Linked DNA regions of Homo sapiens: regions 1, 3, 4 and 5 are each linked to region 2. Evidence: fine-mapped expression QTL. A gene starts in region 2. Each other region holds a variant in brackets. All regions are shown on one strand. Distances are from middle to middle.

Region 1 (5,106 bases), 150 kb before region 2:
AAAATTGTTACATGAAAGCTCTACAATGCACGTGAACATATTAAAAGCTCCCAGAAATTCTACAGGGAAGAAACCTATTTAACTTTGTTTGGCCCACTGTTTTGCTTCCCAGTTTATTTGACTGTGGTACATTTTTTTTTTTCGTGGTGTATTAGTCCGTTCTTTCACTGCTATAAAGAAACACCTGAGACTGCATAATTCATAAAGAGGTTTAATTGGCTCACAGTTCTGCAGGCTGCACAGCAAGCATGATGCTGGCATCTGCTCAGCTTCTAGGGAGGCTTCAGGAAACTTACAATCATGGTGGAAGGCAAAGGGGGAGTGAGCACTTTACATGGCCAGAGCAGAAGGAAGGTGGGGGGAGGTGTCACATATTTTTAAACAACCAGATCTCACAAGAACTCACTATCATGACAACAAAGGGCGGATGTTGTTAAATCATGAGAAAACTCCCCCATGATCCAATCTTCCCACCAGGTCCCACCTCCAGCATTGGGGATTACATTTCAACATGAGATTTGGGTGGGGACACAGAGGCAAACCATATCACATGGCTTGTGCACATTTGGAGCAGTACTAGTCTCCATGAAGTCTACATATGGATTCAGCTTTCCTTGTATAGCTTCCACACACATGCATACACACCCACAGACACACACAAATGCTAACACACACGGAGAGAAAAAAGATGACTTGGGACTCTTAGAGGAACAATTTTTCTGTTATCACTGTCCTTTTTACTTTGCTAAGATCTTACCGTGTTAGAGGTGGAAGAGAAAAGAGAGATCCTCCAATGTCTCTGACCCTACCCGTCATTTTAGGCGCATGTAGAGAGAGAACATGATGTGCCAAATGCCACACAACTTGTCAGTGGCAGAGCAGGGATGGGAGTGAGGCTTCTCAACTCTCTTCCCTCTTTTCATGGGAAAAGAAGGTGCCTTTTGGTGGTGCCACCTGCTTTGGACACTCATTCTGGGGTAGATGTAGCTAAAGGTATCTTTCAGTTTTCTGCATGAAGATATAATATCTGGAGTACCTCTGGATATGGGCATTATCAAGATGTCAGTCAGTTTAAGTCCATAAATTTGAACATCTACTCTGTCAGGCGACTTTGTCATCATTAGTAATATAGGAGCAAACGACTAATACAACCTTCAAAGAGTTACAGACATCAACCTTATGAACAAGTAAATACATACGGTAATTTGAGGTACTTACCGTTGATATGAAAAAGTACATGGGGATGTGGTACAGAGGGCTATGAAACAGCCATGGGGAGCATCTAGAGGTGAGCAGAGCAGCTCAGTGAGGGGCAACATGAAGGTGGCTCCATCTACTGAATCTCTAACAGGACTCCAGCACAACAGTCAGAAGCTACCATTTCTAAGTGCTTACTATGTGTCAGGCACTGTACTAAGCCCTGTAGACCATCTGCTCATTTAATTGTTCAGAGTTAGTAAAGAACAAAGCCAGTACTAAAACCAAGTCTGTATGCTTCTAAAACCTAGTATCAGGAGCAAGCTTGTCCCATTTTCCAAAGACAGAAGACGGCACATTGCTCTTTTTTGTGAAGATGCAACACTAGGGTCAAGTGGTTCACAATGTTAACAGTTTCCTCCCAACAATTTAGTCTAAATTTTACTTTTCACTCCATTCCATTACTCTTAGGTCTACCCTCTAGAGACCCTTCTGTTCCCCAATTACACACATAAAATCAATTACATTGTATTATCTGATGCCAGTTGTGTTTATACTGTAGAAGGCAGAAAAGTGTTTTTATGAGTGGAGATTGTTTTTCCATTCTGTTCCTTCCCAGGGGGGATCTAAATACTCTTTTTGAAGTTAGACATTGTGTGTGGTTTTGGAGCTGAGTTGGGAAGAGGATGGATACGCACCACACCTTATTTATTTTCTCTTCTGTGAAACAGTCTCAGCTGTTTTTTTTTCTCACAAATTCAATTTCTTACTCTTGAAGAATGACCCAAGCTGAGAAATTTCCCAAACATCTGAAATCTGAGAATTTGTGCCTGGAATCCATGAGGCTCATGGTTTCCAGATGGAAAGGCCGGAAGAATAGGAGGCGGAGGAGTAGAGGCAGGGTGGAGTGATAAAAGGGAGGGGGAGCCTGAACTTTGGATCACTTCTGACTGCCTTGTGAACTAGGCCAGGTCCCTTATTTGCTCTGCAAGTCTGCCATTTGACAATGGGCCAGGTCTGAAGATAGACAGCAGTTTTGCATGTCCTCATGAGGCTGTTTCAGTGATTATTAGAAGTAAGTCATTGTAAAATTGTCTTTTTCTGAAGGCAGTGACTGAAAGCAAACAAGCCCATGACTTGGCTATTCAGAGGGGCATAAACACTCCAGATGGATTTTCTCATTGTCCCAGAAATGGCAAAAGACAGACCATTCTAGGAATCCTGGCTTCTTTATACCACTTAAACATATGCAATGGCAGATGCCCCGGTGACCTAATTCTTCCACGTCTTGTCCTCATAATAGAGGTAAGAGAAAGAGATTAACAGGAAAGCTTGTTTTGAGTACATAACAGTCAAGTATAATTTGGCCACAAGTGGGCTAGGTATACTCTCAGAGGAATGCCTTTATTTGATCAGACAGGTC[A/G]GAATCTTCCAGGGAAAATATTAATTTGGGGAAAATAGATCAGAACCTACTTGTTATCAAATGGGAAATTGGCTTGAGTGTTGAGAAATACCCATTTTTATTGTTATCAGTGGTTTGTCATCCTCCCCACCTGAAACTACCCTACTGACACTCCCTATTGCCCTACTATCACCAAGTCAAAGAGCAATCTTGTTCCTCTATCATAGTTCTTCCTACTTAGAAGCTGAATTTCATACTAGGATACAGCCATCCAACTGGGTCTAAAAGGTCTCATAATGTGTGGAGAGAAACCAAATATAGAAAAGTTACTTCCAATTAACACCTCTAATCTCCAGATGTCCTAATAAAAACAGTGAGGCAACAAATGGCCACCCTCAAGCCAGAGAACCATACTTGGACTCAAATGTTTTTAAGAGCCAGGGAAAGTAGCTAACCTCCTCTTAATTTGATCTCCTGGCCTGGGACATATAAATGTTTAACTACACTCTGGCTTAGGGAGGAAAGCAAGCAGAGGTGAATGTATCCTGTAGTGGCATGGCTTCAACAGAGCATTTGTCTCACCCTGAAATATGAAGGAGCAATGCCTGCCTCCTCAAGCTGAGCAGTGCCCAGAATTTATGAACTTCAAGTATGATGTGAATCTGGGGTCCGAGCCAGGCATTATCATTGGGAAGTGGTGGACAATTTCCCTCTCCCTCCCTCCTCGTTTTCCTACTGCTGATTGTACTGTTCAGAAGTGAATCATGATTTAATCCCCTCTGCTGTTAAGAGTATTACAAAATGCTGGTTACAATGAAGTCACAAAAGTATTTACATAAAAGAAAAAAGACGGACAGAGAATGTTATAGCAAGTGACAAAACTCATCATTACCACCAGCAAAAAGATAGGTATGGAAAAATCCTTGCCTGGGTACCAAATGGGATGCAGCTGATTTAGACCATCTCTATATATAATCAGCGTGGCACATGTTTTTACAGTCATGCAGTGTTGAAAGCAGTGCATCATGGGAGAAAAGATAGTTCTAGTCACATGCATCTGGGTTTTTAAATCTTAGCGTCATCAGATCAGGGCCAGGTTACCCCAGAGTGCTCAATAATCCATGAGAAATGAATCCTATCTTCGTTCCAGGGCTTAGTATTGGCATTACACCATTATTAGATGCAAGCAATTCTTTGATTGATGGCTCCAACATGGATTAAGGTCAAAAGTGGCCCTGGAGACCAAATTCCCTAGTGAGGAACTGCCACATAACTTCATGTGTCTTTTGCTTCTGAATTATTTCTTCTAGAAACCACCAACCACAAGCTGTCACGCTGGTATTATATCTACATAACGTTTATTCTTCTTACAGCAAAGAGCTGGAGAAATACAAGTGAGAACCTGTTATTACAGGTTAAATTGTGTAACACTCAACTTGCGCTGAGGTCCAGTTTCTTTTTATTATGCTCCAATTTTGTTGAATGACTATTGCCTAAAATAAATGGGCAATCGACAGGGGCTTAGAACTAACAGGGATGCTTAAGTGACTTTTATGGTAGCAGTATTTGTTGTAACAGAATTTGATCTGTATTCTAGTTATTAGTTTTATTCATCACATTGGAAAGTTGGCACCTCCACTGTTCATGCCATTATATGCAAAGCACTGTAGCATGAAAGTCACTTACAAAGCTGTGAAAAAAACTCTCTGAACACCAGAGGCTCATGAAACAATAAAAGTCAGCTAGGGGGATATACACTGTTTGATTTAGCTAAATATTCTGGATGGTCAAAGGTTTATTCCTTTTAATTCCTAAAAGTTTTTTTTTTTAACCATTGGGATGTAAATATTTCTAAAATGTTTGATATACATATTTTTGTCTTCTAAGCATAGTTTTTTTATGTATGGTGCACAGGGTCATCATTTTAAATAGAATATTGTCCCATGATACAGTGAGGCTCTTAAAGATTGAGATGTGTATAGACTGTTTTTGACACTAAATAACCCATATATCAGGGCTTTGGAGCTTTGCAGTCTACTCAAAATTTCCATTTTCTCTATTGCTGTCCTCCTTTTTCCTTCTTGTTTCCTCTAAAAGTCTGTTTCTTTCCTTTACAGTTAGAAATATGTGTGAAGGAAGAGCAAATAGGTTCTGAGGAGGTGCCTGATGACTAGATGTATGGCCTTTGTCTTATGCGTTTGCTTCATGGTATTTATTTCAATTGGTTGGAAGCCTTGTTTGCTTACTTCTTAATTCTCAGTCACTTTTGATGGGTTCAGCAGAGGTTCTAGATTTTTCTAGTTCTGTCTCAGTTACTCATTGTCAAACCACTGGTTTAGATTTTGTGTTCAGGAAATAGGGATAGGTAAAGCTATCAGGTGGCTAAGCCCTAGGTAAATGAGTTGCCATGAATCCTAAAATATTGTGAAGGTTGTGGGCCATTTTTATAAGGCAAATGGTATGCTGTGGCCGTGACAGCTGAACTCAGTAAGTGAACTTTAAAACAG
Region 2 (5,106 bases):
TCTTAATCTGGATGGAGACTACCTCAGTACTTGTTTTATAATTATTTGTTAGACTGTAAGTTTTTACACACTTTCTGAATGTGCATTTTACAATTATAAATAGGCACTAAAAAAGGGAAAACCTAATACAGAGGATCTTCACTCTCAAGGTATTTGTTATCCCAATGCCAGCTATTCCCTATTCAGGGAAGCAAAAGTCATCATAATATGACAATGTTCACTAATACAGATTACTTAATGAACTGATCACTCCACTCAAAATTTCCCCCTCCCTCCCCGATTAACACCAGCAGTTTCTCTCAATGATAGTAAACATCCACAATATGAATAAAAGGTGCATCGTCTGCAAATTCATTCATTCAACAAATATTTCCGAAGTGTCCACTGTTCTGGGGGACCAGTAAGGTCCACGACAGACAAAGATCCAGACAGAGGACATGGGAACTTCCACTCCCACCCCAATTTGGCCTCCATCTTCTTACCCTCCTTTTCTACTAAGTTTCAAACACGAAGAATCTAAAATGAACTCGGGGCACATATGAAGTTACTATTAAAACTATTTTGTTAGTCTTTTCAATGCAGACGTATCACTTGCTTGGATTCATGTGGCAAAATCCTATTTCCCATGTTTTCAAGTAGGCAAAAAGATTGCCTTATCAAGAGCCCTAGCACAAAGCACCAGTTTCAACAATAGTGATGCTGTGGAAATTGGCCTAAGTGGGGTCAAAACTCCCAAGAAATGCTTTACCTGGGATCCACAGACCAGAAACTTGCAATTTTCTAGAAATTGTATACTAGATTTTGTGTGTATTTTCTCAGGTCAGAGTCCAGAACTTTCATCAGATTCTCAAAAGAGTTCAACCAAAAACGGTGAATAAGAACTGCTCCCAAAAAGTTGGAAAGACTAGCTTCTTAGGGACACAGTGAAAGCGAATGTGGTCACAGCCAGGCCACCTGAGTTGAAACCCAGGTGTCCTGACCCCTAGGTTTATGCTCTGAAGGCCCAATACTTACTCTTAATTCTTCAAAGGCTTCGTCTAGGGTGGAGAGTTGGTGGCCCTGGTGAGCCCCAATGACTGGACACAGGACACAGATGAGCTGCCTATCTTCCTGGCAATAGGTACTCAAATCAAGCCCATGGTCCGGACACTTCCTCTTGGCCACTCTCTCTGCTTCCATTTCTATTTCTGGGTCAAATTCACTTTCTGCCTCAGTTTCTCCCTCCGCCTCGGATTCCCCTTCTTCTTGGTTGTCTTCTTCGGCCTCGCTTTCTTGCTCATCCTCCATTTCTTCCTCGCTGTCTTCTTCACTCTCCTCATCGCTCTCATCCTCACTCTCTTCCTCTGTCTCGCTCTCTTCCTCTGACTCGCTCTCTTCCTCCGACTCACTCTCTTCCCCTGCCTCGCTTTCTATCTCCCTCTCCTGCTCCACCTTGACCTCCGCTTCTTCCTTCCCCGCCCCCTCTCCGTCAGCTGGCGGGGTCCAGGCCTGGGAGCCGTGGACGTATTCGGCCAGATGGTGACTGAGGAACTTCTGCCTGTGCGCCTCGGCATGGCGGCGGCAGTAGCAGAAGCCGCATTCTCGGCACACTTCCTCGGCCCCCGGAGCCTCGTCGGGCTCGCACTCGTCACACGTGCCGTCGTGAGGCAGTTCCTCGAAGGCCGCGCCCACTCCAGAGGCCATGTGGGTGCTGTGACGCGGCCAAGGCCTCGGGGCCCCGGGGCTCGCCGCCTTCCTTCCGCGCGGCCTCACTTCCTCCTCCCGCCCCGGGTCCCTTCCTAGGGAGTCGCCTCCCGCCTGGACCGCGCCGCGTCTCGAAGCGGGACCTGGGGCCGCGGCAGCCCCTGCCCGGGCGCAGCAGCAAAGACCCTTTCCGCCGGCTCGGCCTGCTCCGCTCTGTCCCTGCGCTTCCTCTGCCGCGCAAGGCACTTCCGGCGCGGCCACCCGGCGCCCCCGTCGGCCCCCGCGTCGCGCCGCCCGCTCAGCCTCCCGCTACCAGGGAGAGATCGCGGCAGCCGCCGGCCCCCGCGCCGCCCCGGTTCCACTTTCCCTTTCCCCGTCAGGAGGCCTCCTTTTACTTCCTGAGTCATTTAAAGTGGCAATGACCCTTTTCTGCTTTTCCCGCGGGGCTCAGCTCCTCCGCTCCAAATCTCAGCGTGCCTTGGAGGAGGAGGAGGGAGAAGGAGGATGGAGGAAGTCTCTTACTCTCTCCAGAAGCAGGAATTGGGCTCCACCTCCCCCATTCCCTCCCTGGAAGTGTCAACTTGAGTTTTCACGGCCACTAGGCTGGTGTCCCTGTGCATTTCAGTCTCTCTTGTGCCAATTTGTCGCCGCCCGTCACAGTCCCCAGTGTTCTGCAAGGTGCCCGGACAGTGTTGTTTACCAGACTGAACCTGACCTCTTGGGATTTCCTGAGTGCGGAAGGGCTATGTTTGTTCTAGGCTAGGGGAATTGGAGTTAGGATGAGCAAACAAATATTTTCGATCCAAAGCAATACTGTGCTTTGTCTATTTGCATTGCTACCTCCTAGGATCTCAGAATTTCTGGGGTGGTAACCTCTGTGCGGTTTTCTGAGAGCTGCCTTCGGTTGGGCAGAGACGTCAGGTGAAGTGAGGTGGGGAGAGGCAGTATTTGTCGAGTGACAGGTCCAGGTTGCAGTCATTTTCCTTTATGTAAGGTGTCCCTCTAGATTCCCACTGGGCTCTAAGAGAAAAGAAGGGAACTGTTGTTTATAAAGCAGTACTGTAGTGCCAAGAACCCGGCTACATCTTTTTGTGGCTCTTTAAAAGCCGGTTTTGGAAGATCCTCTGCCCGATGGTCCCCAAATCCTGGTGCCACTACCTATCAGTTTTATGACCATGGACAAGTTAATTCATCATTCTGTTTTCCGCTTTTTAAAAAAGATGTTAAGTGAAAAGAACGGTAAATATCTACCTCATGGGGTAGTTTTGTGGATTAAATGTAACGATGCCTGCACTGTAGAGTATTCACTAAGCTTTCATTATTATTTTTGGCACAAATTATATTTAGTGCTCACAATGCCCCTTTGAAGGAACATATTTTACACACACAGGGCATTTTCGGCTGGCTGCTGGTAATGTAGGCAAGTCTCCACCTCTACCCCATATCCATGTCTCTCCATTCACAGAAGAGTTTTTGTTTTGCACTGTATTTGGGAGAGGGAAAATTACGTTTTTATCTAGTCAAGGGAGAGGCTGAGGTGTATTAAGAAGGATGAAAGGGGATGGAATGGTGTCTGTTTTACATTGATTCCCTTAGATGATTTTGAGTTAGAATTTCCAGATGCTTTCCTCAAACATACCAGGGGATGAGGTGGGGTAAAAAAACCTTTTTAATAGTTTTTAATGTCTCCATGGATAATGTATGCCTAATCTTTGTGCAGCTTTTGTTAGATATTTATTTTTTAGAAACCTTTCTTTTTAACCTCAGAACAATTCTATACAATGTTGAAAAAAATCAGGTTTATTTTGTTCCAATTCCATACACATTTCTGTTTTCCCCCAGCTCATTTCTCTGGAAATTATTTCTGTGTCTGCTTTTGAAACATGAATTGAAGCACCATTCTGAAAAAAAAAATTCAACAAATGTCAACTCAAACATCAACGTTAATATACCTAATGAGAAGTGTGCCTTGCTTGGTTATTTCTACTCCTGTCCTCCCCCAGGCTTAAAAGGAAACAACTTAGCCTTTACAAACATAACGTTCTCACATTTAGAAAGTCTTTTATTCAATGAAAATAATTTTTATTTTTTTTATTTATTTTTTTTTTTGGTGACAGGGTCTCTCTCTGTTGCCCAGGCAGGAGTGCAGTGGTTCAATCACAGTTCACTGCAGCCTCAGCCTCTTGGGCTCAAGCAGTCCTCCCAAGTGCCTCCCAAGTAGCTAGGACCACAGGCGTGAGCCACTAAGCCCCACTACTTGTTTTGGTATTTTTTGTAGAGACGGGGTCTCACTATGTTGCCCAGACTGGTCTTGAACTCCTGGACTCAAGTGATCCTCCCACCTCAGGCTCCCAAAGTGCTGGGATTATAGGTGTGAGCCACAGGCCTGGCCTTTTTAATATCTTAAAAGGACATTGTTGTATCCAGGGTATTTGATGAGGGGAGGGGGAGTCATGTCATCATTATTGTTATTACTGTTTCTTCTTAATGTTATCTGACAGAAAGTTAAAATATAATACTGTGCAGTTCAGTATCTGACACTTTACAATTCTTCTTGAGCACTCTGTGGAGAAAGGGTCTTAGAGGCAGACAGATTAAACTTTTTTTTTTTAAGATGGAGTCTTGCTCTTTTGCCCAGGCTGGAGTGCGTTGGCACGATCTTGGCTCACTGCAACCTCTGCGTCCCGGGTTCAAGCGATTCTCCTGCCTCAGCCTCCCAAGTAGCTAGGATTACAGGTGTGTGCCACCATGCCCGGCTACCTTTAGTATTTTTAGTAGAGATGGGGTTTTGCCATGTTGCCCAGGTTGCTCTCGAACTCCTAGACTCAAGTGATCCACCAGCCTCGACCTCTCAAAGTTCTGGGATTACAGGTATGAACCACCACACCTGGCCAGATTAAACTATTAAAAAGGGACTCCATAAATTTCTGGTGACAAGGTGTGGCAGACTCAATGAGGCAGATCTCTGTACCCCTCTGCAGAGAAATCCGAACCATCTGATTCCCCAGGAATTAGTATCTTTGGGAGTGTCCACAAATAGCACCCTTGTTATATTAACCTATTGCTACATAGAAAATGACATCAAAATGTAGCAGCTTAAAACAATAAACATTTATTATCTTACATAGTTTCTGTGAGCAAGGACTCTGGGAGTGACTTAGCTGAGTGGTTCTGACTTAGGGTCTTTCAAGAGATTTTGGTAAAGATGTTGGCTGTGCTATCGTCACTTGAAGGCTTACCTACAAGCATAGAATTTGCTTCCAAGATGGTTCATTCACATGGCTGTTGGCAAAAGGCCTCACCACTTTCTATAGGGCTGCTGGAATGTCTTCAAGACAGGGCAGTTGAATTCTCACAAAGCAAGTGATCCAAGAGAGGGCAAGATGGAAGATGCAATGTCTTTTATAACCTAAGTTCAGAAGT
Region 3 (5,106 bases), 140 kb before region 2:
TTTAGTTTCAGTTGGATAAAGTCTGAAGTGGTCAAGCTGGTAGAAAAGGAAAAGGCCTGTAGAACATCAGCTCCCAGCTATTACCTAGAAATTTTTCATCTCACAAGGGATTATCTATGTCTATATAAAACCTGTGCTCTTTTGCATCCATCTGGGAAAGACTTTAAGGGAAAATATCCTAGGCAGCAAATTTCTAGAACTTCCACTAAGGGCAGAAACATTTCAAGAAACAGGTCCTGCAAGTTAAGTGTATGCTAGGAGCCAAAAGAACCAACTCAATAATCTTCACCATTCCAAACTCTGCCCTGTTTCCACTCCCCTTTCCTGCTGGTTATACAATCATGGGATGAAGGGTGCATGCTGGAAATGCTGGACAGTGGGCTGTCATTAAGAAGCAGTATTTAATGGCATCTGTCCCAAAGGGAACACAGGGTCTTTTATGAAAGCTTCTCACCAGAATCAAGGCAGAGCTGGAACTGGCGTCATATTCTCCCCCTTTGGTATTACATCCAAAGCAAGCTCTCATTGTTCTCTTGTCAGTTTTATTTCAAATATGAGGGCAGCATGGTGACTCTGCCCTAAGCTGCAGTTCACTTTTTAGCATTCTTAACGTGAGACATAGTTTAAACGTTCATGGACCTAATGAAATTGTATACAGAATTTTATCTGTGTGTTCCTTTGTCTGAGAGAAGACATACTTTTCATCATATTTTCAAAGAAGTCAACAACTCTCTTGCCAAATTGGGAATAACCAAATTATAAATAAACTCTTTTTGGTTGCCAGGTTCTTTACTATAATATTTGGAGAGTGGCTTGGGGAAAAGGTCTGAAGTCTGAACTGATAAAATCTTTTCTCGTTAACCTAAAAGAGACGTGTTCTTGGGCCTGAAATTTATCTCACAGTTTAAAACATGAGATCTTAGGATACTGGCATATCATTTATTGATTACTTCATTTGCTAAATATTTGTTGACTGTCAACCATGTGTAAGTCATGATGCTAGAAACAAAAATGAATAAGATGAACACGGGAGTTGCCCTCTAGGACTTTAAAGCCTAGTAGGTGAGATACAGGCTCAGGGGAGGGAGGAAGAACCTTTTTTTTTTTTTTTTCTTCCCAGAACAGTACCTTCAAAGAAAGCATCTTATTTTTATAATAACCCACTTCTCACAATAATGAAAAAGAAAAGGGATCATAACTGAATCTATAACACAGAGCTTTGCTCAGCTTGTATGTCGTCTCTCCTGGAGGGTTCAACAATATAATTAGTGTGAGGCATCATCTCCTCTCCTGAATGTTCTTGCTTCACTTTGTATATAAACTTTGTATATAAGCTCATCTATGTTCATGAGGTTATCTCATTTTATTTATTTATATTTGAGATGGAGTCTTGCTCTATCACCCAGGCTGGAGTGCATCAGTGCGATCTTCGCTCACTGTAATCTCCGCCTCCCGGGTTCAAGCGATTCTCCTGCCTCAGCCTCCTGAGTAGCTGGGATTACAGGTGCATGCCACCATGCCCAGCTAATTTTTGTATTTTTAGTAGAGCTGGAGTTTCACCACGTTGGCCTTGAACTCCTGACCTTGTGATTCCGCCTGCCCCAGTCTCCCAAAGTGCTGGATTACAGGCATGAGCCACCATGCCTGACTGTTCATGAGATTTTTATCTTAGTCTATAAAAGTCTTCACTTTCTGCAAGGGAAGTAATACAGCCTTCTACCTCAGCCACTTATCATGCTCCTCTGAAACACCTGCCAGTCACACTTAGACTTACAACTGGAGTGGGACTCAGAGGTTAATGGCTGTTTCATTTTTTTTTTTTTTTTTAAATAAACTAAGGGTGTTAGGCAGACAGCACGTTCTATAGCAGGTACTTACCAATGAGAGAGGCAGCATTACATAATTACTTTTGTGTCACCAGACTGAACTAGGTTCAAATGCCTGTTATTAACTAATAAACTGTGGGATCTTACGTAAGTCACTAACATCTCTGAATCTCAGTTTCCTCATCGAAATGCTATCTTCCAGGGTTACTGTGAAAGCTTTATGTATTTTATGCAATACAAATGATAAAAAATGTTACCCTTCTTCCTCAACCCACCTTCCTTCTTATCCTGAATAAAAACCTGCCTCCTCCTGCCTTTCCCTCAAATGTTCCTAGCTCTGGCAGCTGAAACATTACATTCCAGAACAAGTGTGTTCCTATCCCCAAATACCCTTCAAATATCTGGAGAGCAACAGTATCCTGCTTTGCTCACTTGGAGAGTTTTTTAAATGACAACCCAGACCTAATGAAATACAGGTACTAACTAGAAAGGCTGAGTATCACTCTGACCCTTCTAGGTGGCAGGTCTCAAGAAAAGTCATGCCTGCCAAACACTGGGGAGAACAAATACGGAGTGAAGTTTAGTTAACCGGCCTTAGCTCGGTCACTGATCTAGTTTGAGGGTACTGCTGTATCTAAAAGTGGTGGCCTTAAAACTGGGGTATGGATACCCTTGTGGTATGTAATTACTTTCCAGGAAGTATTTGGGCCTGGGTAGTTTTAAGAAAATTAATGTCCAAATCCTTAACTTCCATATATACTGCTTCCTAAAACTTACCTTCTCAGAAACATGCCTGTGCTCTGTAAGGTTCTTGTTTCAGCCACTCCCACTTTACAGATCACCATACTCCCACACTTCCGCAGAAATGCTACTCTCACTCACCCTTCTGAATCTTAGCATGTAACAATTTTAGAATGTCTCCCTTAGAGGAGTCCTATGAGAGAACCGCAAGCAATAGTAAAGGAGACAATCTCTTTTTTCATTCAGGCAGGAAACTCTTGGCAAGGCTGTGTGTTTTATCTATCTATCCATCGATCTAACACTTCAAATTCAAAAGTGAGGTGGTTATCATGAGGTGTGTGCTAATGTTTATTTGTATTGAAAAAAATGAAATCAGACTTAATCTGACAGAAAGCAAGTCTGATTTGGCTGGATGGTTTGACCACCAAAATTGGCTTTGC[C/T]AATTAGATTATATAGTGCACCTTTGCTTGTAAATTTAATAAGCTAAATTCACAGTGCCAAAGTTTTGACAAAAATATATATAAAAACTCATATAAACTACACAATATGTCAGTGAGCACACCCTTAGCAACGATTTACACTTGATACTATGATTTCAGGAATTAATTTAAAAACGGGCAAAAAGGCACATACTTTTAAAATTTCTTTTAGGGGATGTAAAACAAAAAAGTTTAGCTAAAGGAACTGGGAGCTCCTAAATTCTGACCAGGAGGATGGTGTGAAATTTAACACTTTCTTGGTTGTGGGTAGGGGATGGGGTGACAGAATGAGACTAAGGCATTCCAGTAAGCAGAATGCTGTATCCCTTCTCTGAGTTGGGCTTACTGTCTGATGTGGTGCCTGTGAAACTGAAATGTCAGAGGCATGCCATAAGCTCCACATTCAGACCCTAAACACCTGCTGATAAAATGATTATATTTTATCATAATCATTTTACAGTGTTTCACTGTGACCATTTTTTAGTTAGGCTGCATATATAGGCAGCTTAGCTTTTTGGCTTCTGTCCCCAGAGCTTTAGGGGCATAAAGGGGAAGTTAATAAATCAGGTAGCAGGCATTCTGACTTTGCAAGTTTAATAGTTTCTTTTCCTAAGCATATAGTACAACTTAATGTGACTTGGCATCACTCATGTCTTCTGAGTTCTTGGTTATCTATTAATTGATTATTGCTGTAAAAGGATTATTTAACTCAGGAGGATGGTGGAATTAAGAGGTATTGACAAGGAACGAAGGCTAGAGTCAGCTGAAATTCAAAAAGATAGATTTAATATTCTCCAAAAATTACACTGCCTGGGCATTGTACAAGGAGCCAATTGGGAAGTCTCACACTTTCAGTATCTGAGGAAGTGGTTGCCTAGTTGCAGTAAATATGCGATCAGCACTGCTGGGGAGACAGACTAAACACTCGGATCCAGGGACCTTTCTTTACTAGACAGAGCGAGTTGCCTTCTTTGTCCCCTCTGTCCCACACTCACCTGCCCCAACAGCCTGAGCTGAAAATAAGGAGGTTACTGTGCTTTAAGGGATCTGAACTTTACAAAATAAAGTAAAATGTCCTTGGTCTATTTTGGGCTAACTGAGAAAAACATGATGAAAATACCAGAGTTCTAGTCCTGGTTCTGCTGTGTGACTCTAGGACCCAGTATCCTTATCTGGGAAATTAGGATGCCTTGCATTTTAAGCAAAGTTTAGGAAAACTCCAAACCAGACAAAAACTAAGAAAGCTTCCCTCCAACATATAGACTTGCTGAGCTAATTAATTTGCTCTCATTCATACAGCTGTCTCTCTTTGCTTCCTGTGCCCCTCTCTATCCCATCACCACAATCTGAAGGATGGCCTAAATGTTCCAAGTCCTTTCACCTCTTTCTGGCTGGGCCCAAATACTGGGTTGATGCCCGGTACTGAGAGGTGAAGCCAGCTGGACCTCCTGGGTCGAGTGGGAAGTTGGAGAACTTTTCTGTGTCTAGCTAAAGGATTGTAAATGCACCAATCAGCATTCTGTAAAAACGCACCAATCAGTGCTCTGTGTCTAGCTAAAGGATTGTAAACACACCAATCAGCACTCTGTAAAAATGCACGAATCAGTGCTCTGTGTCTAGCTAAAGGACTGTAAGCACAACAATCAGCAGGATGTGGGTGGGGCCAAATAAGGGAATAAAAGCTGGCCACCTGAGCCAGCAGCAGCAACCCACTCGGGTCCCCTTCCACAGCATGGAAGCTTTGTTCTTTCGCTCTTCATAATAAATCTTGCTGCTCGCTCACTCTTTGGGTCTGTACCACCTTTAAGAGCTGTAACACTCGCCGTGAAGGTCCGTGGCTTCATTCCTGAAGTCAGCAAGACCACAAACCCACTGGAAGGAAGAAACTCCGGACACATCTGAACATCTGAAGGAACAAACTCTGGACACGCCACCTTTAAGAGCTGTAACACTCACCGCGAAGGTCCGCGGCTTCATTCTTGAAAGTCAGCGAGATCAAGAACCCACTGGAAGGAATAAATTCCAGACACAGTACTGCCTGATCATTACCTAGTGCAGAC
Region 4 (5,106 bases), 48 kb before region 2:
AAGAAAGAGAAGGATAAGGTAAAGCTGCAGGGGAAGGGAGAAGAGGAGGTAGGGAGTGAAGAATCTCAGTAGCGTTTACTTTAAAGTGGGAATATATTTCCTAATGTGTTTCTTAAATAACTTTAAGTAAAGTTATTCCTAAAATAACTTCTTTATTTTTCTTATAGTTGGGCACCAAGCAGTTCTGCTAACTAGGGAGTCTGCTTCATAACAATAAACATACTTGCTTCAATGCATTGATTTCTTCTTTCTATTGGGAATATATGGACACACAACTACACACTCCCAAGGCAGATACATTTGCTTTGACTTGAACAGGCAACAGACCTATGCTGAACTACTGCCAGTTACTCTGCAGCCAGGCAAGTTCACTCACAGAGTGAGTGAGCCAACAAACCACACACCAAGGGATCCCAAAAGTGGAGACTGAACTCAATTTATTTGCAAGTCATTATCACTCAAACAGGTATCAATGGCCCTTTAAAACATGCAATTGGTGTCATTATTCCTAGGAAGTGTTAATTGATCAAAGCATAGAATTATTTATAAACAGGTGGCTTATTTTTCTCTACAAGGCTTGGAAGGTTTCTGGAACTTTGTGGGGAGGAAGGTGCCCTCACGTACCCTTGCCCTTCTGCTGGAAGTAAGGGTTATTCTCCGGACTGGAGGCTAACAGCAGCCACAATTTATAGGAGGCTGTACTCTGCACTTTTTTTGAAACAGGATCTCACTATGTTGCCCAGGCTGGAGTGCAGTGGTACAGCCATGGCTCACTGCAGCCTCGATCTCCTGGGGTCAAGAGATCCTCCCACCTCAGTCTCCCAAGTAGCTGGGACAATAGGCATGTGCCTCTATGCCTGGCTAATTTTTTTTTAATTTTTAGTAGAGATGGGGGGTCTCCTTAATGTACTCAACACTTTAAAAGGATTATCTCACTTATTTTCCCAACAACCTATGAAATATGTACTATTATTCCCTATTTTGGAACTGAAAAAAAAAAAAACAAAAAATCTGAGAAATGAAGAGATTAAGCACAGATTTGCCCAAGGTCAGATAGCATTGAGCTGATAGGGCAATTCCTGAACTTTTAATAATTGTAGTATACTGCCTCCTCCTGTCAGAGGCCAACATCAGGTTTTTAACCCTCATCCCTGTCAGGAAGAGAAAAGGAAAAAGAAAATTAATATTCACTGCTGACACTTCAAGTGAATGGTTGAAAAAACTGATTCAGGCAGTAATCTTGTTCTCTTTCAACAGTTTTATTGAGATATAATTCACATATTTTACAATTTACCCATTTAAAGTATACAATTTTGTGGTTTGTAGTATATTCCCAGAGTTGTGCAACTATCATTACCATTGGTTTTAAAACATTTTCATCACCCCCAAAAGAAACCCCATTGCTATTAGCAGTCACCCCACATTCCTCCACCTCCCTCAGTCCCATACAGTATTGAGTCTCTTTCTATCTCTATATATTTGCCTATTCTGAACATTTCATATAGATAGAATCATATATTTGGTCTTTTGTGAATAACTTCTGTCAGTAACTACTGATGGGGTTCAAGATATGCTATCCCAAAATATGACTGTAGGAGGCCAGAATATTCCATCCCAAAATACGCCTCTTTGGCAGAAGAATTGTTTTGAGCTGATTATTTGGAGAAACTGCAAATACAGGAGAAGTACTGAAAACAAGGGAAGTTACCCTTTTGTAAGAGAAATGTACATCTGTAAAGGAAATCTCCATTTGCAGGGTTGTCTCCCTCTCTATACCAGGAAGAGAAGGATGACTTCCAATCACTAGAAACTCTTTTATGTTATAAATGGAGAAGGCACCAACTTAAATCTGCATAATAAACTTTACCTTTGTTTACTATGCTTTTCCTGGGCATCTCCCCATAACTAGCCTTCCCTTCCATGGTATTCATGCCTGAACTCAAAGCTACCTCTTTGGGATTTACTTATCTTCCCTTAGGTATCACATGCACACACGAGGTATATATGTTAATAAACTTGTTTTTCTCTTGATAATCTGTCTTTGTTAAAAGGGTTTGTCTCAACTAAGAATGCTGAAGGGTAGACAGGAAAATTATTGTTCAGAATCCCAGTTTTCTAAATTGAGGTTCAACAATGGAACAGGATTCAAATGATAAAATTGTATCCATTTATAAGAGATAACCTTAGGTGAAAAAGGTAGGATACAAAGCTCTCTCTCT[A/C]TATATATATAAAGCAAACTAAATATGGCCTGAAAAGGACTCTGTAATTCTATATTTGAGTCCTTGTGGATGAACTGTAACCTAACTTAATAGACAAGATTGAAAACTTAATTTAGGAGTATGCGCCTGTAACAATCACTGAGTCTTCGCCAATCCCAGCAGCCATATTTCATCCAGTCACACACTGCTGAGGGTTCAAACTGTGTGCAAATAAGGCAACTGCTGAACTGTAATGAATCCAGCTGTTTCTGTACCTCACTTCCAATTTCTGTATGTCATTTTACTTTTTTTTGGTCTATAAATTTGTTCTGACCACAAGGCATCCCTGGAGTCTCTCTGAATCTGCTGTGATTCTGGGGGCTGCCCGATTCACAAATTGTTCATTTTTCAATTAGACTCCTTTAAATTTAATTCAGCTGACGTTTTTGTTTAAACAAATGGTGTCAGAAGTGGGGTCTGAAGTATAGCTTCTAACGACCCCCAGGAGTGCTGAGTGAACAAGTAAGGTGCCCACAGGATCCACTTGTGTCCTCTGATCTCTCAGAGTAGCTGGGGAGTGTAAGTTGTCTCTTGGATTTTGGAGCCCCACGGATTTGCATTTTGAGCTCTCCGAGTTTCTTTGAGCAAATTTCTGAACCAAACTGGGTTTGGAAGTCATGACGGAAACTGGGCTGGGTCCAGGAATGGATTTGGTCTGGTAATTAATTGGCTTGGATCCAGTTAGAGGCCTCTTACATCTGACTGGGTCAGAAAGAAACTGACAGCAAATGGTAATATTTTAGGGGTATAAAATTTAGCTCTTAAAGATTTGCAAGGATTTTTTTGTTTCATCCCTTTGTTTCATTTTTCTTGCCCACTTAGGTAGGAAAAATCATTGGCTAGGTTAATCAAGGGAATCTGAGAGCAAAGCCAATATTTTATGTAAAAATGGGATACATAACTTCTGAAAACCTGAGTTCCTTCTGGCTTATGCATTAGGCACAGGAGGCAGCAAAGTCTCACAGAAAATGACAAAATCTTACTAAAGGTAACTTACAGTAGAATGTTCTGAATAAACAACAATGCACTGAAGTGCATTTACAAATGAGAGCCTCCAAAAATTAAATCTGCTAATCTTTCAGCTTAGTTACTATCCCCATCCAAAGGAAATAAACTGCAGCACCAATTGGCTGACTTTGGATAAGTAATGGGGTACGTTTTACCTGAGTAAAGGAAGGGATTGGGGTAGAGGTCCTCCTCTCAGTAAAGTTCTTTTTTTTTGGGGGGGGGGCATGGCAACATCAGTGCATGTTTATTTATTTATTTTAATGTGTTTTCATTTTTTATTTATTTTTTATTATTATTATATTTTAAGTTTTAGGGTACATGTGCACAATGTGCAGGTTAGTTACAGTTGTATACATGTGCCATGCTGGTGTGCTGCACCCATTAACTAGTCATTTAGCATTAGGTATATCCCCTAATGCTCTCCCTCCCTCCTCCCCACACCCCACAACAGTCCCCAGAGTGTGATGTTCCCCTTCCTGCGTCCATGTGTTCTCATTGTTCAATTCCCACCTGTGAGTGAGAATATGCAGTGTTTGGTTTTTTGTTCTTACGATAGTTTACTGAGAATGATGATTTCCAATTTCATCCATGTCCCTACAAAGGACATGAACTCTTCATTTTTATGGCTGCATAGTATTCCATGGTGTATATGTGCCACATTTTCTTAATCCAGTCTATCATTGTTGGACATTTGGGTTGGTTCCAAGTCTTTGCTATTGTGAATAGTGCCACAATAAACATACATGTGCATGTGTCTTTATAGCAGCATGATTTATAATCCTTTGGGTACATACCCAGTAATGGGATGGCTGGGTCAAATGGTATTTCTAGTTCTAGATCCCTGAGGAATCGCCACACTCACTGACTTCCATAATGGTTGAACTAGTTTACAGTCCCACCAACACTGTAAAAGTGTTCCTATTTCTCCACATCCTCTCCAGCACCTGTTGTTTCCTGACTTTTTAAATGATCGCCATTCTAACTGGTGTGAGATGGTATCTCATTGTGGTTTTGATTTGCATTTCTCTGATGGCCAGTGATGATGAGCATTTTTTCATGTGTCTTTTGGCTGCATGAATGTCTTCTTTTGAGAAGTGTCTGTTCATATCCTTTGCCCACTTTTTGATGGGGTTGTATTTTTCTTGTAAATTTGCTTGAGTTCATTGTAGATTCTGGATATTAGCCCTTTGTCAGATGAGTAGGTTGCAAAAATTTTCTCCCATTTTGTAGGTTGCCTGTTCACTCTGATGGTAGTTTCTTTTGCTGTGCAGAAGCTCTTTAGTTTAATTAGATCCCATTTGTCAATTTTGGCTTTTGTTGCCATTGCTTTTGGTGTTTTAGACGTGAAGTCCTTGCCCATGCCTGTGTCTTGAATGGTATTGCCTGGGTTTTCTAGGATTTTTATGGTTTTAGGTCTAACATGTAAGTCTTTAATCCATCTTGAATTAATTTTTGTATAAGGTGTAAGGAAGGGATCCAGTTTCAGCTTTCTACATATGGCTAGCCAGTTTTCCCAGCACCATTTATTAAATAGGGAATCCTTTCCCCATCTCTTGTTTTTGTCAGGTTTGTCAAAGAACAGATAGTTGTAGATATGCGGCGTTATTTCTGAGGGCTCTTTTCTGTTCCAATGATCTATATCTCTGTTTTGGTACCAGTACCATGCTGTTTTGGTTACTGTAGCCTTGTAGTATAGTTTGAAGTCAGGTAGCATGACACCTCCAGCTTTTCCTTTTGGCTTACAATTGACTTGGTGATGCGGGCTCTTTTTTGGTTCCATATGAACTTTAAAGTAGTTTTTTCCAATTCTGTGAAGAAAGTCATTGGTAGCTTCATGGGG
Region 5 (5,106 bases), 130 kb before region 2:
TATTGGTAATGCCTCATTACTAGTAGCAGAGGAGGTAACTGGTACCTTGTTGCTAAAGATGTTCCAAGGCCTTGGCAGACTCAAACTCCAGTCTGGGCACCAATTACTCGAAAACTTTCTCCTCGTTACAGGGGATCCCAATAGTCTCTTAGTTTATTTATTTATTTTTGAGACAGAGTCTCACTCTGTCGCACAGGCTGGAGTGCAGTGGCGTAATCTTGGCTCACTGCAACCTCCGCCTCTTGGGTTCAAGCGACTCTCCTGCCTCAGCCTCCTGAGTAGCTGGGATTACAGGCACACACCACCATGCCAGGCTAATTTTTGTATTTTTAGTAGCGACGGGTTTTCACCATGTTGGCCAGGCTGGTCTCGAACTCCTGACCTCAGGTGATCCGGCTGCCCCAGCCTCCCAAAGTGCTGGGATTACACGTGTGAGCCATTATGCCTGGCCCCAATAGTGTCTTTTTATTTGTTGTTTGTTTTTTAAAAAAGAAGCCGCACAGCTAGATTTCTTTTTTTTTTTTTCAGTTTTTATAACTGCAGCCGGTCATGACTCTCCTGTTGTAACCTGGCTGCAAAGTGGCCATTTCCCTCAGATTCTCATCTTGGTTCTTGTGGGCTCCAGCAAACAGTCATGTAAAAGGGCCTGCCACCAAAACCTGTTCCCCTGAACTTAGGACAGAATCTCGTTGGGTCAGATATTGGTTTCATTTTCAATCCTGCCTGTCCTGCAGTGAGAGGCACCAAGGTCTCACTCATTTAATTAGGTTACATAGAAATATCTTTCAAGGTTTGAGCTGATTTTCACTAGACCCTACCAAAGGATGAAATTTGAATTAAGTGCCATCAGGGAACCAGTGATGCAGGTGGTCTGACACATCACTGCTCTATCCTTGCAGCCTCCAGAGGTTCAGGGCTTCAGTGCACCTCAGCACCGTTATGTTGTAAAAGTCAGTCTTTGTCACTTGAGCTCTTTGGAGGCTGCATTTGTTTCTCATTCACTATTTTACCCCTAGTTTGGCAACATGCCTGGCACTGAAGACATTTGGCAGCTGGCATATGGCAGCTCTCATAACTTGCTTTGGCCCAGAAGGAGGGATTTCACTGGTGAGATAAGAGGCAGGGAAGGTAAACCTTCAAGGTAAAAACTACATCCAGCAGGAAAGCATACCTTTCTCTACGAGCACTAAGATCTGTCTACTTGAAGAATTCCTACAGGAGGTAGTATAATATGTTAGGATCATCCACTTTGGAATGAGACCAGGATTACTTACCATCCAAGCCCTTCAGCTCTGAGCTGTGTAACTTTGGCAAAGCTATTTAACATCTAGGCCTCAGTTTCCTCATCTGTGAAATGGGGAGTCATTCCTTCATTTGTGCTTTCAGTGAACAAGTATTTATTGAGTACCCACAGTATATAAGGCACTCAAATAGGTAAAATAGCAGTGAAAACGACTGACAAAGTCCTTGTTTTCATGGAGCTTAATTTCCAGTAAGTTGACAACAAACACGTAAATAATTTCAGATAGTGGATATGAAGAAAATAAACCAGGATGCTGGAATAGAGAATGATGAGAGAGAGTGTGTGTGTGTGTGTGTGTGTGTGTGTGTGTGTGTGTGTAGGGGCAACTCCTCAGGAAGGGATGGTATTAAGATCTACCTCTTAAGAGTTGATGCAAATATTAAATGAGATAATGGATATAATGTGTTCAGCCTGCTGCCTAATGAGTACTCAACTAAATTCAACTGTTTTTGTATCACTCCCCTCCTGAAGTCAGTGGCTATTCTTTCACCTCACAGTGACTGAGCCCCAAATACATGCCAGTGATGGAACACAGTGGTGTATCAGATATCTCTACCATTCAGGAGCTCACAGTATAGCAAAGAATGTAGCTATGAGCCATAAGAGAAGAAGTGCTAAATTCCACCTACAGAGTCAGAGAAGACTTTATCACTGAGTGTTGACAGATGGATTGGTATTTTCTAGGAAGACAACGGGGCAAGGAGCGGGGGGTATGCCAGGTGGAGGGAACAGCTTGAACAAACTCTTGAAGATGTGAAACAGCTTGGCATGTTCAAGGAGCTGTGAAAAGTTCAGAATGGCTGAGATAAAATGTGCGATGGTCCAGTGAGAGAACGTGTCTCATCAGCAGCTCCTAATGCTTATCTTTATGGGTCATGCTTGAAGTGTCTCCTAAGAAAATGTCAGGGCGGGGGGTGTAGATGGGAAAGAACAGGAGGTGAGAAGGGTGTCAGGGCTCCATATGGCATCTACCACATTGCCAGCACTTCAAAATGTGAACAAGGGCTATGCTTAAAATATACAGGCTGTGTTCTGTGTGACACTCCCTGAGGCAGCACAAGCAGATGTTTCAGGAAAAAAAGAAAAACAAACACCCAGTGGTAACTCAATATAAAGCCTACATGGGGGCCAGCAGGCATTAGGATGCTCAAATGTGATTACATCGTCAGCACAGATCTACAACTCAGCTTGGAAGAGTATTACAGGTGCCAATGTCATGATGCTGGGGGTCTGGAGCAAATGGACACTTGCTCCCAAGCAGAGGCTAGGGCTCCCTCTTTGTCAAAGCCAGACTCACTTGTCCAGGAGTCTAAAGTCTGGGCCAGGGACAGTGGGAGGGCTCTGAAATGGAAAAAACAAGAAACTATGAGGTGTCTTATGCCTAGTTAATAACTCAAGCATCTCTGCCAGCATGTCTTCTCAGATGAGTATAACTGAGAAGTGGACGTTTATGAAAGGGAATAGAGGGTCCCTGTTCTCCTACTGCCTTGTTCCTTCCCTGTTTACTACTACCCAGTTCTACCCCTGCCCTTTTAGTAAGTGTTCTTGTTATGAGTTTCCCTAGGAAACGGAAAAGAAGGTAAGAAAGCTATCCCCACCTGCATTCCAACCTCAATATTCCAAAAGCTCATGATACAGTCAACAGGTCTGAACTATATGAAATCTGCCCCTCCTGGGAGGAGGGTTGCT[T/G]GATGTAGACAGCAAAGAGATGAACACCACATCAATTTACTTTCAGCCAATCTTACCAGAGGCTCTCCTTGTACTGCAGTTCAGTGCTGTCAGATGAGAGACAGCACTAGTCTGGTCACCATTAGATGACCCAAAACACATAAAAACATCAAATAGAGCTGAAGCAGAGACAAGAGAGGAACTGAAGACTGCAGCTTTCCATCCTTTATATGTCACTACCCAATCTCAAGATTGAACAAAGTCCAGTGCTTTGAATTCAAAGGACTGCTCTATGTACTGGAGGAGGTAACAGATGCCAAACATGAGAGCATGTGAAAAACAGCAAGGCCTTTGCCACTTTCAAAAGATCTCCCATAAGCCATTAAGCCTAAAGTCCCTATTAAAATTGTTCCTGTAGTCTAAGGTGTTGCACTTAGAAGGTTCCTTACAGTTCAGCCCCTAGTTAAAAATCAGTATGTATTACAAGACAAGAGTATGCCATGGGACCACACCATAAACCACTTGAGTGCAGAAGAGTTTCTGGATGAGCCAGCTGTCATCTTACGATGAGGTTAAATTTTGCTGGGGGGAAGAGAAATGATAATCTTTAAAGGGTCAGGACTAGGGCATAAGTACCGGGCACTGAAAGAAGCAAATAAGGATTATTAAAGACACATTTTGCCCTCCTCCCAGTTTTTCCAGAAGCCGGCTCTTCTGTGGCACCCAAATGACATAATTCTACAACTTCAAACCTGTTTCATCTATATGAAGAAGAACCTGTTTATGGCTTAGAAATCAAGTGTCATAAGATGTATTCACGATAGATTTCAATAGAAATCTATCGTATTTACGATTGATTTCAATAGAAATCAAGTGTCATAAGATGTATTTACGATACCTGGAAAGCACTTGCTCACCATTGGCCCAATTGCAGGGCCCAGGCAGAAGGAACAGTGTAAATACCCTAAGGAGCACCAGGGGAATATGCCTCTTAGAACTGAGTAAGGCCCGGTCGCCCTCTAAGACGGCTTAACTGAGGGGCAACTGTCAGTAATTTGGATGACAAGGTTCCCTGCTGTCAGAACTCTCAACCTTGCCTTTTAGGCTAAGAGGAGCAGGAGTGCACAGCCAGAGAAATCAAGGCTGAATCCAGTTCTTCTACTTATTAACTGAGTACCCTCTGGGCAAAACTTATTCCACTGGGTCCCAGTTTCCTCACTTGTGAAAGAGGATCAATGATTCCCAGGTGCTTAATGAATGTAAAAACATATAGCACATGGTAAACTATTAAGTGATCACTTTTCTCATTAAACGCTGTATGAAGCACTACCCTACACATACTAAACTTTCATGACATATTGCTGTGTCCCCTTCTTCCTCCTTGGATTAGATGATTTCTAAGGCTCTCACATTCTCAGTCCCAATCAGACTCAAGTTTAATATAGAACAATAAATATATCAGATGGCTCTTCTACCCTAACATGAGAAGTTAGCATGAGGTGCATAGGTCTTTTACTTTCCCTAGCCACTCACCCACTCACTACTTAAAACATTCCACTGCAATCTTCACTCAGCCCAGCAGAGACAGGTAGGAGGAGGGGAATGACAATAAAATAAATATTTTTCAGTCAACCACTTTGGGGAAAAGATGAGAGAATTCTTTTGAGAGTTGTTTTCAAATTAAAAAATATTTGCTGTGAGACAATAAAGATACTCCTCTATAAAAAAACTATTTTTAGGGCCTCAGGCTGAAATATACACAAGAAAGAAAAAAGGAGTTAAAAAGAAGAGTGATAATTCTGTCTGTAAAAGTTTAAGCAAAGCCTGTGGAACAACTTAGTTTATGTTCAGCTGTAAAGAGAAAGCTTATGTCCTTCCCAAACTGCTTCTCCAGCCACCTCTCCTTAGTCTGATTTCTGATACAGCTCAGAGCCCTGGTGGGACTAAGGCCTCTGGTGGCTAATCACATGCCTCTTTTTGCCCACTGAAGAGGATGGAAAGACCAGGCTTTGGAAATAGAGCCATTAACTGTAGGGGTCCAGCAACCAACGCTGAGAACCACTGGTTTGTGTGAAAGGCAAGACGATCACTTAGTTCTTATTCATTTTAATTGGCATGAATGGTCACAACATGGC

Direction of the effects. Alleles are on the strand shown, and positions count from the first base shown. SD is a standard deviation of normalised expression in the study named. Not every link is listed here.
In carriers of allele G in region 1, the expression in tibial artery of the gene that starts at base 2,020 in region 2 tends to be lower than with A alone (small effect, 0.18 SD a copy in GTEx).
As copies of A replace C in region 4, the expression in aorta of the gene that starts at base 2,020 in region 2 goes up (small effect, 0.21 SD a copy in GTEx).

What was found. PIP is the estimated chance that this variant, and not a neighbour inherited with it, causes the effect.
Region 1: its variant is the best candidate, but not a certain one, in a credible set for the expression of TRIM44 in tibial artery (GTEx, PIP 0.76).
Region 3: its variant is the best candidate, but not a certain one, in a credible set for the expression of TRIM44 in whole blood (INTERVAL, PIP 0.57).
Region 4: its variant is the best candidate, but not a certain one, in a credible set for the expression of TRIM44 in aorta (GTEx, PIP 0.73).
Region 5: its variant is the best candidate, but not a certain one, in a credible set for the expression of TRIM44 in whole blood (INTERVAL, PIP 0.58).

Annotation. Positions count from the first base shown.
Region 1 is chr11:35,813,097-35,818,202 of GRCh38, reverse strand. It overlaps TRIM44 (tripartite motif containing 44), which reads right to left. Exons shown (of 5, transcript NM_017583.6): 5 at 196-5,106. Among named protein-coding and RNA genes, the nearest start is that of LDLRAD3, 130 kb to the left of the region's middle. The variant A/G (reference allele first, on the strand shown) is at 2,621.
Region 2 is chr11:35,659,689-35,664,794 of GRCh38, reverse strand. It overlaps TRIM44 (tripartite motif containing 44), which reads right to left and starts at 2,020. Exons shown (of 5, transcript NM_017583.6): 1 at 1,015-2,020. The coding sequence starts at 1,683. RefSeq lists enhancers at 1,332-1,832, 2,044-2,363 and a silencer at 1,624-2,003.
Region 3 is chr11:35,799,994-35,805,099 of GRCh38, reverse strand. The region is part of intron 4 of TRIM44 (tripartite motif containing 44); the gene reads right to left. Among named protein-coding and RNA genes, the nearest start is that of TRIM44, 140 kb to the right of the region's middle. The variant C/T (reference allele first, on the strand shown) is at 3,008.
Region 4 is chr11:35,707,366-35,712,471 of GRCh38, reverse strand. All of the region lies in intron 2 of TRIM44 (tripartite motif containing 44), which reads right to left. Among named protein-coding and RNA genes, the nearest start is that of TRIM44, 47 kb to the right of the region's middle. The variant A/C (reference allele first, on the strand shown) is at 2,220.
Region 5 is chr11:35,788,588-35,793,693 of GRCh38, reverse strand. The region is part of intron 4 of TRIM44 (tripartite motif containing 44); the gene reads right to left. Among named protein-coding and RNA genes, the nearest start is that of TRIM44, 130 kb to the right of the region's middle. The variant T/G (reference allele first, on the strand shown) is at 2,993.